3 linked regions of the Homo sapiens genome follow. The protein of the gene in region 1 purifies or fractionates together with the protein of each later gene. This does not show direct contact. Each region holds a gene or a part of one and is shown in the gene's direction. Other genes may lie near its edges.

Evidence for each region.
Region 2: the proteins of ADCY2 (region 1) and ANKMY2 purify together in Homo sapiens (affinity purification with mass spectrometry; one large-scale study listed by BioGRID and IntAct). This does not show direct contact.
Region 3: the proteins of ADCY2 (region 1) and GDE1 purify together in Homo sapiens (affinity purification with mass spectrometry; one large-scale study listed by BioGRID and IntAct). This does not show direct contact.

What each region holds. Positions count from the first base shown.
Region 1 is NC_000005.10:7,710,506-7,714,161, forward strand, and holds part of ADCY2 (adenylate cyclase type 2), read left to right. Parts: intron 1-2,350; coding exon 2,351-2,394; intron 2,395-3,656. UniProt on the Homo sapiens protein: Catalyzes the formation of the signaling molecule cAMP in response to G-protein signaling. Down-stream signaling cascades mediate changes in gene expression patterns and lead to increased IL6 production.
Region 2 is NC_000007.14:16,635,667-16,639,322, reverse strand, and holds part of ANKMY2 (ankyrin repeat and MYND domain-containing protein 2), read left to right. Parts: intron 1-2,867; coding exon 2,868-2,932; intron 2,933-3,656. UniProt on the Homo sapiens protein: May be involved in the trafficking of signaling proteins to the cilia.
Region 3 is NC_000016.10:19,508,482-19,512,137, reverse strand, and holds part of GDE1 (glycerophosphodiester phosphodiesterase 1), read left to right. Parts: intron 1-1,193; coding exon 1,194-1,299; intron 1,300-3,656. UniProt on the Homo sapiens protein: Hydrolyzes the phosphodiester bond of glycerophosphodiesters such as glycerophosphoinositol (GroPIns) and glycerophosphoethanolamine (GroPEth), to yield a glycerol phosphate and an alcohol.

The sequences.
Region 1 (3,656 bases):
CTGAGGGAGTCTCAGAGGGAGAAATGAGTGAATAGGAAGAGGAGGTGGCAGAAGAACAAAGTCAGTGGCGCAAAGATGAAAGTGAGTGTGGTGTCCCCTGGAGACAGAGAGGAAGCTGCTGTGGCTGGAGCATCATGAACAATGAGCAAAGGGAGGTCATGGGGTGAGATGCACCACGGTAAATTTTATATTGCATTCTGTGTGCAATTGGAAGTCATGGAGAATCTTAGCAAGGGAGGGTCATGATATAATTTAGGCTTTGGAATAATGGAGCAAGACTGCAGGGGTCCCCGGTGAGAATGATACCCCCTTATTCTAAGAGTTTAGCAGTGGAAGCAACGAGAAGCAAATTCAGGGGCTAACGTGAAAGTAGAGCCAATAAGACTTGGTGATGGATTGGATATGCATGAACATTAGGAACAGAGATGAATCCAAACTTTTTGGCCCCACAGCTGGAACAATGATGATGCCATTAATTGAGATGACAAATACAAGGGGGAAACCAGATTATTTAAGATGGAAAATTAAGACTTTTCTGCTGGACCGCTTCTAACCTATAGTTAAGTGCAGTGAGGATGTAGACGGTTGGATCTGCAAGTCTAGAACTCACGGGACAGGTCCAAGATGGAGGCATGAATGTGAACGTGATCAGGTTGTAGATGACATTTGAAGCCATGAGACTAGATAAAATCATCAAGAAGAGAACAATCCAAGGTGGGAGGCCTGGGGCAGCTGGGGCCTTCCAGCATTTAGATCTGTTAGAGAAACAGCATCCTAGGACTCCAGTATCCAACCAGTGAAAGCCTATGTTTCTGTCACTCATGAAAAACAGTAATTTGGATAAGTTAGCCTCAGTCTTGCTAGTTAGTGCTGTGTCTGATAACTCCATTTCCCATTGGGATTTATTGTACATCAGCAATTGGTTGGTTGGTTGGTTTTTAAGGAATAAGAATCATATATAAATAGTCGAATGTGATTTCCTGTGCTGTTTTTCATGTGTTCCTGTGGGGAAAAGGCTTACTTTTCCAGGTATATTGTTGTTGTTGTTTATTTCTTATCAGCCTTTATTGTCTTAAGACTTAAGAGTGACTGTCTCTTTTATTATCTGAGCGTAGGATCCAGGAATGGTTTCAGTCTGACTTTAATCTGATGCTATGTGTTGATGAAGATGCCTTCTTCAAGATATGGCCAGAACTGTTGAGTGCCTCAACTTCAGAAATTTGTTTATAAAAATCAAAGGACCTCTTGAACGAACTCTATTTTCTTAACCGTCTGGTCCCACCTGTTGCAGATTCAAAGCCAGGCTTGGATTGCCTTAGTAGCAGTATAGCATACTTTAAGAAAGCCCCAAGTTTTTGGTGATGCATTAAGCCCAAACCACTTTGACTTAACTGTGTGTCTCACTCACTTTCAGAAAGACCTCACTGGAGTTTTCACTCATAAATCCCAGGGTCAAACAACTGACATTGCTGAAAGTGATTCCTTTATCTAATCCCCTATACAGAACTCCATTCACTCTTGATTCAACATTGATAGAGCTCTTGAATAATACAGTACTTTACTGTATGGAATGAAACTTGGAGCTCAATCACTTTTTCAAAAAAATCTTTCCTTTCCGTAGGCTAAATCCATATCTTAATATAACCTTGGAAATGAAAGCAGCAAACCAAAGTTTCTTTGGAGCAGTTTTGTTCCAACTTTTATTTTCATTCCCACTATAAATGTGTAAAGGCAATCTTTCCTTGAAAGCCTATTATTGAATATTTGACAGTGGCTTTTCCACTTATAAATTCTGTCTCTCTTCCATTTCTCTTGGGAACTACCAGCGCTCCTTTGCCGATTTCTTCATTTTGTCCAATGGTTTGTGATTTCACATACTTAACCAATGGTACTGTTTCTTAACGCCCCAGTTCAGTGATGGGGATGACTACAGATTTTGTGGTTATATTTTTGTTCTTTCTACAGCATTTTCTAATATTTGTCTGATACCAAAGTCCATTTTCACATGGTCATAGGTTACTGATGGTAACTCTGATATCAGTCGCCGGCAGGCCACTGTTTGAAATCAGATCTGATAATACAGGCTATAAATCTTAAAACTCCAGACAACAATCCTCATGCTTCTAGCATCCAGAGTTTAGAGATTACAGCAACATTCCAAAGATAAACTGAGTTTACAACTTGATTCACACTTAGGATTAAGCTCTTTTTCTCCACATGAGTAATTAATTATTTGTTAGTTAAATGTTACTGTCCATGATAAAAGAGGAAATATGTTTCACCTAATTATCATTGCAACATTCTTCTTGAAACATGTTTTGACAATTAATAACCTTTTTTCTCAATATAGGATGTACCCATGGGTCAGCATAATTTTCAAAATCGCACCTTAAGGTATGGTATCTCTCTATCTGATTTTTTAAAGCTTATTGCTCTTTATTCATTTCTGAGAGTAATTATCATCAATTATGGTAATTTCAAGGGCTACTTCTGAAAGAGCAGCTCCCCCTGAAAAGCCCTATTAAATTGCTTTCAGCTTCTAAAAATAGAATCATTGGGGTCTTATTGTTAGAATTGAGAGAGGGAGAAAGAAAACACCACCTGGTACTCATTTTAGAATGTTAAACTGTTTTCCTAAAGAGACTCTTCTTAATATTAATGTGTGGTAAAAAAAAAAGTGAATTGTCTTAAAATGGGTATGTTGCTTACAATTACATTTTTCTGCCTGTAATCCCAGCACTTTGGGAGGCTGAGGCGGGTGGATCACTTGAGATCAGGAGTTTGAGACCAGCCTGGCCAACATAACAAAACCACGTCTCTACTAAAAATACAAAAAAAATTAGCTGGGTGTTGTGGCATATGCCTGTAATCCCAGCTACTCGGGAGGCTGAGGCATGAGAATCACTTCAACGCGGGAGGCAGAGGTTACAGTGAGCCGAGATCGTGCCACTACACTCTAGCCTGGTCGACAGAGTGAAACTGTGTCTCAGAAAAAAAAAAAATAAAAAGAAAAAAGTTACACTTTTCTGTTGAATTCTAAAGGTAAAAGCAGGATAAATCCAGTCTGTCTATAGTGAAATAAAGGGTTATCCACTCTGCTCAAAAAAAGAGAAAAGTTTCCCACAAATGTCTCCACACGCCCTGTCGCAGCCACCGTAAAATCCCAGGCACCAACTCCTTTTTTCCCCTGTTCCTCTATCTTTCGGGCACAGAGTTTTACTTTAATATTGGTTTGGGAGTTAATCAAATCAATATTAGGACATTCAGATAACCAGTGTAAGATGTAGTTCCAAACCCTAAGCCAGGCTTTCTTTCTCCCCAGAGAGGTCAATTTATTGGAGCTATTGATAGTTTTATAGAAACTAAGGAAAAATATGAGATCTGACCTATTTTCTATAGAAAAGGAATTGTACCCAAGTAAAAATGAAACATAGGTTGTAACCTGCTGAAACAAGGCAACAGGGCACATTAGCCCAGGATCCTTCTAAGTGACCGTTGGGATGAGCTCTAATTTGGACTTCATGCAAAATTTGACATTTTAACATTGAGATATAACATTCATAGTCTTTATGTTATGAGGATAATTTGGTTCTTGAGCTTTTGAAGCATTATAATTAAGTGGCATATACTGTAATAAAGAGAACTTAAGCTAATTT
Region 2 (3,656 bases), on another chromosome or scaffold:
GTTTGTTAAATCAGATTTAACATATTTATTTCCCAGAATAAAGCAATTAATCTTTTACACTTACTTGTAAAATATTATTTAAGTCTACTATGGACAGTAGGAATGACATAAAGTAAAAATCCTTCTGTGTGAGCCATGTGTTTCACATTTCCATGCTATTCTGGACCTTCTATAATTTCCGACTAATGTCATTACATTGTGAACACCGAATTGGAAATCATCACAGTTTTTCCTCTTGGAGTGTTTTGCTCATCCATGTTCCAAATCTATTTTTACCCTCTAGAAGCCCAATCTGTTTCAGATTATTTTTCTCATTCCAGCCCCTGCATTTCAAAAGGCTAACCTTAGTGTGATTGTGGGTACGTGTACATGTAGGATATAATAAGAAATATCTATTTGGTCTCTGCCACTGGCTCCTAACACAGAGCTCCTAAAACCCTTATAATCTCCTGAACAATGGGGTGCTAGGTGCATCTATTGTTCTAATATTTGGTCTTTGACCCTGGTACCTGACACAGAGTTTCTAATCCCTTGGAATTTCCTGGGCGTTAGAAATGTCTTTTGTTCTAATGAGGCGACTGTTGGATAGCTTCAGGATGGGGGCTGGTCATGAGAAAGTCCAAGCCATGATTAGAAGGTTGAATTTTTCAACTCCACCCCTCCCCGCATCTTCAGGAAAGGGAGAGGAGCTGAAGACTGACTTAATAATAGGTCACACCTATGTAATCAAGCTTGCATAAATATTACTGAACTACAGGTTGCAGAGAGCTTCCAGATTGCTGAACTCGTGGAAGTTCTTGGAAGAATGAGTGCCTGGAAAGAGCATGGAATCTCTGTGCCAAGTGCCACATACCTTGCTCTTTGCCCCTCTTCCATCTGGCTGTTCATCTTTGTCCTTTGTAATATTATTTGTAATTGATGGGTAAATGTAAGTAGTGTTTCCCTGAGTTCTGTGAGCTGTCCTAGCAAATTATGGAACCTGAGGAGGGGATCATGGGAACCCTGATTTATAGCCAGTCAGAAGTACAGGGGCTTATGATTGGCATCTGAAGTGGGGACGGTCTTGTGGACTGAGCCCTTGACCTGTAAGATCTGACTAACTTTAGATAAACAATGTTAGAAATGAGTTAAATTATAGGATACCCCATTGGTGTCCAATGGAGAATTGCTTGGTGTTTATGGGGGAAACCCCATATATCTGGTGTCAGAAGTGAAGGATTGAGACTATTGAGTGAGAGTTAAGCAGGAGAGAACAGTTTGTTTTCCATTATACATGCATCATCTTTAAAATATATTGTTCCCTTACAGAATATGTTAACTTAGATTGTTGGCTATTTGGCAAACACCTTAGAGAATTATCAGCCTGTTCTCTAATGAGAGCCAAATGTTTATGATCTTAATCCCCATTCTACTCTTCCCATGTAGCAGGTTTTGACATGCTTACAATCACTATAGTATTCTCCCTTTCTTGCAAAAACATCTCTTGGGCAGATAGAAAAAGAAAATAACTTTGGTTCTCAGTAGAGAATGGGATTTGGATGAAGCATCTTCCTCAAGAGAAACTGGGGTGCGGGGTTTTTGTTCTGGTTTTATTCTTCTATAAAGATTTTTGAGAAAGTCTCTGATGAGAAGACACAGATACGAATAAGGTTTCATGTAGAACTGGCTCGCATGCTCACACACACAAGAGCTTTGCCCTTGCATAGCGATTCAGCCAGTGATACTAACTGCTTTCAGATGGAATACAGGGTCAGAAAAATGCATTATTTATAAAAAAAATAGCTGCTATCATACTCCAGGGACGTGTAGATCATTCACTTGACATTTTCCCAACAGAGCTACTTCTCTATCTAGGAGATGTTTCTGTTTTTTCTCTGTTGGTGAGGGGAACTCAGGTGACTTGCTTAAGAAGTGGGTCAGAGAGAAAAAAGCATGCTAATCTTTATTTTGCATTTCACCTTTAACTCTAGAAGGCTAGCAGAGTTTAGCACAGTCTTGCACTACAAGTCTAAATTTAAAGAGAGGAAATAACCTGATTGGGAGACTTACCTATTCTTTTATGTTCTTTTATAGGAGAGGCTTATCTTAGCCTTTCTCCCTCAGCACATTCAATTTCATTCTTCTCTTCCCAGTAAAACCAGAAATTTCTTGGCAAAATGTGTGGCTGGCTTGTACTAATGATAATAGCAACATTCTCTCCTGCAAGTATGCTTCTGTCATTATGCCTTATAGAAGACTGGAAAAACCTGACAACTTTGGCCCAATTATAGCTTCTTTCCAAATTTACAGAGGAGTGACCTTAAGGTTTACATTAGTTGACTTTCAGGGTGGTGAGTACTGATCATAGAGCACTGTAATGTAGTACTAGGCATTGAAGATGTGTTTCACCTAAGTATTTCCAAACCAAGCACTCTATTATAAATATGTCATCAATTCACAAGATGTGGTGCTGACAAATTATATAAATACTGACTGCATTTTGAATTCCAAGTATTACATTGACTGGAATTTAAGCTTCAGATGGTGATTTGGATTAGATACCCTTTAAGATTTTTTTTCAGTATTAAGTCTTATGCTTTGTGGTTATTGTATTACCGCCAAAAGGAAAATGTGGCCAATGTAATATACTTTAAGGTCAGTGAAAATAAAAACAAGATGGAGCTATTTTTAGTTTCTGTAAATCTATTCTACTGGACAATTACTTTGTAAAATAAATAGTATGTGATTGGATGTTTCATTTCTTAGCAACCTACACTGACTAGATGTACTCTTACAGATAACTCCTTAAGGTTTATTTCCTTGATGTTAGATTTTTCTCTTATTCTAGTGACGAATAACCTTACTTTTCATCTTTTTTTTTTTTTTAGGTACTGTCCAAGAAGCTGGAACATTATTATCCAGCAAGAATGTTCGTGTCAACTGTTTGGACGAGGTAAGATTTTAGAAGTTTAATAAAGGATTTTACTTCCTATAAGAAGAGATAATATATCCTTTTTTTTTTTTTTTTTTTTTTTTTTTTTGAGATGGAGTGTTGCTCTTTCGCCCAGGCTGGAATGCAGTGGCACAATTTTGGCTCACTGCAACCTCCGCCTTCTTGTTTCAAGTGATTCTCCTGCCTCAGCCGCCCAAGTAGCTGGGATTACAGTCACCCACCACCACTCCTGAGTAATTTTTCTATTTTTAGTAGAGACAGGGTTTCACTATATTCACCTGGCTGAGCTCGAACCCTGACCTCATGATCCTCCTGCCTTGGCCTCCCAAAGTGCTGGGATTATAGGCATGAGCCACCACGCTCAGCCTTCAAATCTCTTAATACAAGTTTTTTTTCTAGCATTTTTGCTCATATTACACTAATAATTCCTAAACTAAATGTAAGCAAATAGGTCATAAAAGAAAAATAAGCATGTAAAAATAGTTTAGTCTTATTAGTAATCAAATAAGTGCAAATAAAGTCAAAATCATATTATTTCTTGTCAAGCATGGGGAAAAATGGACTTTTAAATGCTAATGGTTAAGTGTAAATTGATGTACTATTCTGTAGAAAATTTTGGAATATGTATCAATTTTAACTGAGTATATTATTTGATCCAGCAACTTCAGTTCTAGGGAAAGTTAAGTGAACCTAAACTCAATTTCCTAGAATAGTTGCTTCTAAA
Region 3 (3,656 bases), on another chromosome or scaffold:
TTCTCAAAAAACTAAAAATATAGAACTACCATACAATCCAGTAATCCCACTAGTTGGTATCTATCCAAAAGAAAGGAAACTAGTGTATCAAAGGCATACTTGCACCCCCATGTTTATTGCAACACTATTCACAATAGCCAAGATACAGAATCAACCTAAGTGTTCATCAGTGGATGAATGGATAAACTGTGGTAAATATACTCAATGGAATACTATGTAGTTAGCCATAAAAAAGGATGATATCCTGTCATTTACAGCAACATGGATGGAACTGAAGGTATTATGTTAAATGAAATAAGATAAGCCAGGCACAGAAAGGCAAATATTACATGTTGTCACTCATATATGGGAGCTAAAAAAGTTGATCTCATGGAGGTAGAGAGGAGAATGATAGTTACCAGAGGCTGGGAAGGGTTTGGGGTTGGGGGAAGAGGAGAATAAGGAGAATTTGGTTAATGAGTACAAACATACAGTTCGATAGAAGGTATAAATTCTAGTGTTCAATAACATAGTAAAGTGATTATAGTTAACAATCTGTTGTATATTTCAAAATAGCTAGGAGATTTAGATGTTCCTAACACAAAGAAATGATAAATATTTGGGGTGATGGACATCCTAAATACCCTGATTTTATCATTATACATTATGCGCATATCACAAAAATATGTCTAAGTGTATAGCAATAAAAATGTGGAAAAAAGAATATCTATAATTTGGTTCAAATTATTACAGTAGGACAGGCGCAGTGGCTCACACCTGTAATCCTAGCACTTTGGGAGGCCAAGGCAGGTAGATCACTTGAGGTCAGGAGTTCAAGACCAGCCTGGCCACCATGGTGAAACCCCGCCTCTACTAAAAACACAAAAAATTAGCCAGGCGTGGTGTCACACGCCTGTAGTCCTAGCTACTTGGGAGGCTGGGGCGGGAGAATTGCTTGAACCTGGGAGTTGGTAGTTCCAGTGAGCTGAGATTGCACCACTGCACTCCAGGCTGGGCAACAGAGCAAGACTCCGTCTCAAAAAAAAAAAAAAAAATCTTAAAGTAAAGTATCTTTGGACTTTGCTATGGTCGAAAAAAGGAAGTTGGAGAAAACACTCTTTCCTTTTGATTGAGAGACATATGCAAAATGTTTGTTGCAATACAGTTTATCTGTTTCTCTTTTTTCCTACAACGTATTTTCTCTTCTCTTACAGGAATGATTTCCCTGATGAAAAGATCCCTACCCTAAGGGAAGCTGTTGCAGAGTGCCTAAACCATAACCTCACAATCTTCTTTGATGTCAAAGGCCATGCACACAAGGTACAGTTTAAATTGTGGACTTCACTTTGTTAAAAAGACATCTTATTTCATTGACGGTCATTTCCGAAGTTACATATATTTTGTTATTTATTCTTTTTAAAACTTATTTTTATAAATTGTATTTGTTTAATGGAAGTGTACAATGCAGGAATCTATATCATTTAAGGAAACAGTGCATTATGGAACTTTTTAACCTTTTATGGAAACTTTACAAAACCAGCATAAAATGGAAGAGTCAAGTTTCTATTATTTACATAAAGCATTTACAAAAGATATTAAGTAAACAGTAAAAAAGACATTTCTAGAAAAAAACCACTGTAGTAACCTTGAGTTACTTGAAAAAAAGGAATTCCGAAGTTGTACACAAGACCAATTTTATCTAGCTTAAAAGTTAAGGGCCTTATATGGACAACTATGGACTGCATTTAAAGAGAATTCCTATATTAAAAGCTTCTAATAGTTAACAGAACATATACCTTTTACATAGATTTATCCCTTTGTATAATTTATATCCCTTATGTATAGTTTTTTATTCATTGATTTTAGCAGTTATACTTTTATCAGAAAATCATTTATTTTCTTCAAATGTATTTGACATTCCTAGATAAAATTTTGCTTAAATTTTAGGGCCTGCACTTACACTCATAAGAACATATTATTACAGTGAAAATCAGTGGGAAGATATGATTCTGATTACATTTGTTCTCTTATAACCAGCTTTTCAAGTGCAAGTACTTTTTTCCCCATTTGGGCAACTTGAGTATTTTTCCCCTAGCAATATTAATAATCGGTAAGGGCCATCTACTGGTTGAGAATTCTGATGATGCCAATTTTTTTTTTTAATTAATCCCATGATATCATTGAAACCAGTTGTTAAAACCCAAAATGGGCCGGGTGCAGTGGCTCACACCTGTAATCCCAGCACTTTGGGAGTGGATCACCTGAGGTCAGGAGTTCGAGACCAGCCTGGCCAACATGGTGAAACCCCTGTCTCCACTAAAAATACAAAAATTAGCTGGACTTGGTGGCGGGCACCTGTAATCCCAGCTACTCGGGAGGCTGAGGCAGGAGAATCGCTTGAACCGGGGAGACAGAGGTTGCACTGAGCCGAGATTGCGCCAGTAGTACTCCAGCCTGGGTGACAGAGCGAGACTCCGTCTCAAAAAAAAAAAAAAAACCTGAAATGTGGAGCCTAAGTATACACTCTAATTTTATTAACAGTTAATTCCTATTTTTGAAGAAGGAAGATAATGGTAACTAATTTATTATTCTAGTAAACCGATAGTTGTATACGTCTAGGTTTTCCAATTGGTCTGCGTTAGAATCACCTGTACCTATTTTAAAATATAAATTCCTGGGCCATTCTCCCTAGGGAAGAGATTCTGAAAATGTCTAGGGTGGGCTCAAGGAACATGTATTTTTAATGAGCACCTCAGGTGCTCATTGTTGATGTTGCAGCCCACATTTGGGAACCCTGATAGGTCCTACATTTCACCCATGGTATACTGACTTTTATGCTTATTCTCTTAGATTTTTTGAGACAGAGTCTCACTCTGTCACCTAGGCTGGAGTGCATTGGCGCGATCTCGGCTCAATGCAACCTCTGCCTCCGGGGTTCAAGCAATTCTCCTGCCTCAGCCTCCCAAGCAGCTGAGATTAGAGGCATGTGCCATCACACCCGGCTAATTTTTGTATATTTAGTAGAGATGGGGTTTTGCCATGTTGGCCAGGCTGGTCTCAAACTCCTGGCCTCGAGTGATCCGCCCACCTTGGCCTCCCAAAGTGCTGGGATTACAGGTGTGAGCCACCACGCCTGGCTTCTCTTAGAATACTTTTTAAAAAGAAGTAGACATTTAAAAAAGAAAATCTAGCTATTTGAGTCTTCTGAATGGGTGCTCATGGGTGTTCAGCCAAGACTGGGTAGAACATAGTGACCTAATTCACCAAGATGGTAGTAGAAAGGCACAAGTGTAGGCAACAAAGTGGAGCTAGTAGAGCACAGTGGCCAAAATCATGGGCTTGGGACTCCAACAGTCCTTGACTGAGCTCTTACTACAGGGTAACCTTAACTTTGATGAGCTTCAGTTTCTTCATGGGTAAAATGGGGATACTAAAAGCAGTTACCACATAAGGTTGTTGTGAGAATTAAATAATGTAAATGCTAAGAGTTTACAGTGCATGTCTTTGTTCAAACAGAAAAAAAAATGCTTTCTATAGCTTGCCTTCAGTTGCATTAGCGAAGAGGAGGCATGACATGGATAATTTGTGTCCTTTTTTATTTTGGTGGGGGAATGCATTTTGCTCATCATATTTGGTTAGGGGTATGTGTAACATTCCAAAAATTAGCAGTGTTTCAC